Linked DNA regions of Homo sapiens. The protein of the gene in region 1 purifies or fractionates together with the protein of each later gene. This does not show direct contact. Each region holds a gene or a part of one and is shown on either strand. Other genes may lie near its edges.

Region 1 (3,500 bases):
GAAAGTCACAGTAAGTCTGCCCCATTATTTTGATTTATTGTGATTTATGATGTGGAAATACTACAGTCCCAGAATCAGTCACATACAGTAAACAAGCTAGTTACAAAGAAGGTAAATCTTTGATAACAACTAGTGAGAAAGAAAATATCTTAAGACTGTGGCAATCTGTTTCATGGTCCTTGGTTTTAGTCTGTGTTTTTAGTAATAGCCGTAAGTTCTGACTCAGGTTTTTGTGGTTTTATGCATGCCACATTAAGTTTGTGCCTAATGCAATGTTTCCCAAACCTCTGTTATTTGAATACCATGTTCACAATTTTTGCCCTGACTGGGAAACTACCCATATCACTATATATTTTACGTACTTTAACCATGTCCTAAGTAGTTCGATATCCTATTTATATTTTTGTAATAATGTTAATTGATTGCATTAACTTTACATTAAAATGTTTGTGTTTGTCCCCCCTAATATGGCATATCATCAGTGGTACTGTTGTCATGCTCTGGGAAACACTGCTATAGTATGTAGAAAGAAGATGACAAAATTGATAAATCACTTCTGATATCATATGAGACACATTTCTATTATTCTTGTTTAACATGACATTTTAAGTAATATATATTTTTAGGAACCTGATTTGGATGCTTTGGCACAGCGGGCAGCAGAAAGGAAAAGAAAAGCAGATTTGAGGCATAAAGAAGCCTTGAAAGTACAGAAAAATCAAAAAGAAATATTACTGAAACAAAAAACCTGGTAAAGTAATAATTTTTACTATAATCTCAACTGAAACTAACATGGTTGAAAGTAGAGGATACATAGGATACTGTGTAAGCAAATATTAAATAAACATAGTAGCATATTCATTGCATTTGTTAAACTTGATTTAAAAATAATGTTGGGGACAGGGAATGATTTGCTTAGGTGAACATAGTAACTAATGAGCTTTCTTTTCTAGTTGTAGTTTGAGTTGAGTTTAGCAGCAGTTACTAAGTTTCTGAAAAAATATATGGCTACTTCAGAATGCATGTCAACCAATGTCTGTTTCCGATGTAAACATGAAATAAAAATTGATGTGATTAAGAACATTAAAAGAGGTTGTAGACTCTGGAAGTCATTAGTATTTTTTGCATGTTGTAAAAATTAAAGGGCCATTCACAGGAAACGTGAGTGAAGCAAAGTAAAAAATTAAGGGCCCTGTTACTAGTTAGCAACAGCCATTTTTAACAACATTTCTGTTTTTTTTTTTTTCACTCTAAAGAACATTATAAGTTTCTTGGGTTGGTCCCCACCATAGAGCTTTCTGTCTTTAGATAGGCCTCTCTCAATTTGTAAACATTTTCTTAACATATGTATAGACTCTTTACACATGTAAAGCTTACTGAGCCTGTGGAATCAGACTAGAGGATTTCTTGAGCCTATGACTTACATATTTTTAACCCTGTTGTACTATAATATTATCACTGAGAGATTAATTGATGACATCTCTTGTTTCTTAAGGCATATAAAAGCTCGAAAGGAAGCACTGCTTGTGGAAAAAGAGAGATCAGCCAAAATTACAAGTCTGCCACCTCCTCCTCCAACTCTTTTTGAGGTGAGTTTGAGTATTAAGAGGAACTAGGTCATAATTCTTCTTTACTATTATAATTCAGTGGAGGTCAGAATGACTATCACTTAAACTTAATTGTACAAGTTTTCTTGTACAATTAAAAACTTGTACAGGAGTATATCTGGAGTATGTTAAAATAATTCTAGATATCATTTCACCTGTAAATACTTTAGTATGTATCTCTGATGTATAAGGACTTTTTTCTTAGTATAATACTAATATTGTTTCCAATATTATTTAATACCCAGTATTTGTTCAGCCTTCCTCAATGATGTCAAAAAAATTTTGTTGTTTGGAAAACTATAATGGTTTTGGTTTTGAAAAATCTTTTAATAATTCTGCCTTTTGAAAAAATACCCTTTATTTATTTATTGGGGGAAAAAACTAAACTATTCGTCCATTAGGCTTTCCCACACTCTGAATTTGGCTTATTTTAAATGGTCAATATTTTACAGATAAGTTTCAGTTAAGTTAATAAATTTACATAAGATTATAAAGTATCCAGGTGTGATTTTAAAAAAGAAAAGAGGAAAAAAATATTATAAAATAATAAGGATCTATTTTTTATGGGAGTAAAATGTGTGCTTTTGTGATTTGAAGCTTATTTTTTTTAAAAAAATGTAATTAAAGCAGAAATTTTTTAAAATACTTGTTCTCCACATTAGCTTGTTATAGTTATTGAAATGGCTATTTGGATGATTGTCAAAATTACCTAGTTATTTTTATCTGAAGAATGAAGTAGAAGTAAACCCAGAAATACATAGTTGTACATACAAGTATATTCTGTATAAGCATAAGTACCAGATACTCACTTCTTAGGCCTTTCAGTTTGTCAGCCTTCCTGCTTGTACGTTGAGCCATCTACCATGTAACATTTGATCCAACAAAATTCAGACGGAAAAGTTGTATTTCAGTCACTCCTTCGGTACAAAGTGACATGATAAAAGCCAGGCAATGTATTATCCATGATGCCTTTTGATTATTTTTGTCTTAATTCTTAGTATTTATAACAAGCCAAAGTCAAAAATTTATAAAAAGTAAACAAAACTCTGTAAGTGCTTTGACAAGCATGAATTAATCAGTGGGCATGAACTATTTAGTTCTTTTTTTCTTTTGAGGCAGAGTCTTGCTCTGTCACCCAGGCTGGAGTGCAGTGGTGCAATCTTGGCTCACTGCAGCCTCTACCTCCTGGGTTCCAGCGATCCTCCCACCTCAGCCTCCTAGGTAGCTGGGATTATAGGCATCTGCCACCATGCCCCGCTAATTTTTCTGTTTTTAGTAGAGACGGGGTTTCACCATGTTGGCCAGGCTGGTCTCGAACTCCTGACCTCAGATGATCCACCCACCTCTGCCTCCCAAAGTGCTAGGATTACAGATGTGAGCCACTGCACCCAGCCTCGTTCCTTTTAGGAAAACAGGATATATTCCTTGTTTTTCCTCTCTGCCAGTTTTCAGAGTAAAGGGTTGGGGTAATAATCAATGCCATTGGTGGTAAATGGGTTTTTTTTTCCTTTCTCTTTTGTTACTATCACTGTTAACTTGTGGGGGTTTTTTACTCAATATTACATAGTCAATTATAGTCATTCTTTTTCTTCTCACTGATGTTCGTAATATCTGAAATTTGGTCAGCAGGAGACTTGAAGTTGTTTCTTGCGTCCCCGTGACTCCATGAGCATTTCCTTGCTCTGTGCCCCAGCAAATGACCTAGGCTTAATTTACTCTGTCCCGTATCTGGTATCTCCAAAGACCCCTGATTCTTTTTAGTGGAGAAGTGGTACTTATAAACTAAGATCTGGGTGATTATATTCTTGTTTCACTAAAAGGCATTATTTTAGAAAAATACATTACCCAAGCCAATAAAGGTGTTTGGGATAAGGCAGTGTTTCTGAATGTCTT
Region 2 (3,500 bases), on another chromosome or scaffold:
CTTGGAGAGTATGACCAAGAGCAATATGGTGCAATTCATTTCCAAATTACATGTTTTAATCTACCTTTTGACTACATCCACCCAATCTGGGTCTTTTCTGCTTAAGACATTATTATTTAGAAATCTAGACATGAGATTCATTATGAAAAAGGTAAAAATATCTATCAAGGACAAAATCAACCCTGTATCAACTGATGTTTCATGGTCCACATGAAATTACATTTAGACCAGGAGCCATCCCTCCAAGGAGAAAGGTGACACCACTAATCAAATGCCACTGACAGGACAGAGCAGAATGAGTATGCGTTTCCAACTCACTAAATAACGCAGATGTCCTAGCGCTTTGGGAAGCCCAGACAGGAGGATTGCTTGAGGCTAGAAGTTTGAAACCAGCCTGGGCAACATAGTGAGACCCCATCTCTAGAAAAATGAAAAAAATTAGCTGGATGTTGTGGTGCATGCCTGTAGTCCTAGCTACTTGGGAAGCTGAGGCAAGAGGATTCTTTGAGCCCAGGAGTTTGAGGCTGCAGTGAGCCATGATTGCACCATTATACTCCAGCCTGGGTGACAGAGCAAGACCCTGTCTCTTAAAAAAAAAAAAAAATGATGAGAACGATGCAGGATGATCATGCCAATGTTTGTCATTGTTATTACAGAATTTTTAAGCTGATGGGAACACTAGAGACAATCTCTTCCAAGCCCCTCAATTTACAAATGTGGAAACTGAGTTCCTTAGAGATGGGGCAGTTCATGCCAGCCCATTCATTCAGAAAGGAGATTCCAAAGAAGAACCCATTTTCTGACGCTCTTCTCCATTTACCTCACAGCCAACCTTCAAAAATCACATCTTAACTTTCCTGTTTGACAAAAATAATGTTTTTTGTTTTCATGTTTAAAAGGAAAAAGAAATTACCACTTTCAGTGTTAGGTTCATGAGTTTCACTTACTCTTCGTGGGTGGGCATTTTCCTCTCCACTGTCTTTACGGATTCTTGATATATGTAGGCCGAAGTTGGCACTTTCCAGGCGAGTGTTATCAACTACCTCCTGAAGAAAGAGAGACAAGGACACATCGGCTGTGAGCAGCCATGGAGAGTTGCTGGATGTACCTGCCTACTCCATCAAGCAAAGTCCGATGCTGGATAGCAATTCTGTGAACGCGACATGCACATGTAGCTTAGCCACATTTGTGCAGACCCAGGAAGATGAAGTAGCTGTCTGCCTGCACTATGTGGAAAGAGTTGTCCCTGGAAGACTGAGAAGATGCCAGGCCCCATGGGCCCCAAGCAGCTTTTCCAATGTGCTTCAAACAGTTGTGCCTCAACCCATCCCCATTCGCTGGCTCGTCTTTTCTCCTGTGATCAGGGGTGTTTTTGGCCAGGAGTGGCTGAGTTTGGAGATATGGCAGAGTCAACTAGCCTCCCATGGGACTCATCCTGCCCCACCTTCACCTCTCTTCCACATGAGTCAGGCTGCAGCGGCCAGAACCGTAGGACCTCCTTGAGGGGGAGAGAATCCTTTTGACCAATCGGATATTGTGATTATACCTTTCCGTTATTTGACATTAATTTTTTTAATTCCTTTTCTCAGTTTCCATTGGTCCTCTTTCCTTTGAAACCTGGGATGTTTAGTCCTAACTAAGAAGGTTCTGGACATGAGCCTCCTGAGTCAGGAGCCATTGACTTCTCTCACCTGCTGGATTCTCTCCTTGCTGCCCTTCTTGGCCCCCAGGAAGTCCAGCATGAAGGTCTGGGGTGAGGGCTGACCATGTGCGATTTGGAGGAGCCCAACAGGAGACCTTGAGACCCAGCCATACCTGAAATGTAGTGTAGGCTATGCCTGGCCTACACTTAGGAACCTAGCAATGTGCTCTGGGATGGGAAGACCTGCCATCTTGGTTAGCTCAGTTACCTCAGGTAATAGTTACCTCAGATGGGAGGATCAAGGCAACCAGGCCTTCCCGCTCTGACTGGGCCCTGGCCCCACCCTGGCCAATCACCCAGCACCCAGACCAGGGGAAAAACTTGGAGGAGAAAAAAGTCCTCCCACTCAAGTTAAGAAACATTAGGAAATCTAGGGATATGTCCATGGTTTTAGTCCAGTGTACTGGAAGAAAACCTAAAATTCAATTAGATCACACAGCAATTTTAAAAGCGTAGGTCCTCAAAAAATAAATAAATGTGACCTTTTTCATAGGGCTATTTTTCAGCCAAGTGTGCTGTTCACAAAGTCAAGCCAAGCCATCCTGACCTGATTAGGATGCTCCTTATTGAGCGATTTGGTGTCCCCTGTCTTCCCCGCTGTGGTTTTGGACCGGGGCCTCTGCTGATTGATCTTGGGAAGATTTTGACAACTGTCGTTCATCATCCTAAGGGAGGGAACAAAGACCTTGGAAGAAATTATTCTAGCCACTTAATTTGAGGTAGTTAAACAACTATTCTTAAGAATAGCACATTTAAGAAAGCTATTGAAAGATATGCAGGTGGCAACTATAGGGCCCTTCCACCTATGTGATCCACCCACCAGGTCCATCCTGGCCCTAACACCCTCCAGGCTACTCACTGGGTTCTTCTAAGATTGCCTCCTCGAGCCCCCCAACTCACCCTCTTCATTTCCCTTTCACACCACATAGCTTCGGCCCTTCTGCAAATAGCTTTAGTTCTTAAGAATACATTACTTTACAAGCATTCTTCCATTGTTCCTTCCACCTTCCTTAAAAGGAGCATTAGACCAGGAGAAAGGTGTGAGAGAGAAAGGAGTCCTCCCATTCAAACTAAGAAACAGTAGGAAATCCAGGGATTGGCCCCATGGTTTTAATCCAGTGTCCTGGATATACCCTGCCTACTTAAAATACCTCTCAGCATGTTATGAGTAATAAACATCAAAAGGGGATTGCAGAAGGAAAACAAACTTCCCTTCATCAATGTTGTCCCAGACCAATCATATTTGCCAAACAAATTTTCATCAACAATTGTTTACTTCAGACAAAACAAACTGATGGGGCTGGAAGTCAGAAGAGTAGCTAACTCTGATGGAGATGGGGAGAATTTGACTGAGAAGGGGCAAAGGTAGCTTGCCGGTGGCTGTAACTGTGGTTACAAGAGTATATACATTTACTGTATACATAGTTATATATGTGGTATGACTGTATATATGTTATATATCCATAGAAAGATCAAATCACTTTTTTCACTACATCCTCATAATTAGATATAAAATTCAGTATTGGAATATCCATATTTTTCTGTAGAAGATGCCATCCAGAGAGAGACAGGACTAGCTTGTGGGGGCAGAACATGAACTCCCACATTGTTGCTTAGTTCTCTTAGCACTTTTGTCCCCATATGTGAGATGCATTTGCAGAAGGTTCGTTAGAAGCAAGTCTCCCCATGTTCAGAGTGATCTCAGAGAGCTGCTATTTCAACTTCCTTTCTTTATGGGGATAATAAATGTTCATGTCTAATATAAATGCACAACTATTTGGCCAGCAAGACCACACAT

What was found.
Region 2: the proteins of CEP295 (region 1) and KATNAL2 purify together in Homo sapiens (tandem affinity purification; one large-scale study listed by IntAct). This does not show direct contact.

What each region holds. Positions count from the first base shown.
Region 1 is NC_000011.10:93,668,182-93,671,681, forward strand, and holds part of CEP295 (centrosomal protein of 295 kDa), read left to right. Parts: intron 1-626; coding exon 627-751; intron 752-1,495; coding exon 1,496-1,589; intron 1,590-3,500. UniProt on the Homo sapiens protein: Centriole-enriched microtubule-binding protein involved in centriole biogenesis.
Region 2 is NC_000018.10:47,057,102-47,060,601, reverse strand, and holds part of KATNAL2 (katanin p60 ATPase-containing subunit A-like 2), read right to left. Parts: intron 2,368-3,500; coding exon 2,250-2,367; intron 1,047-2,249; coding exon 948-1,046; intron 1-947.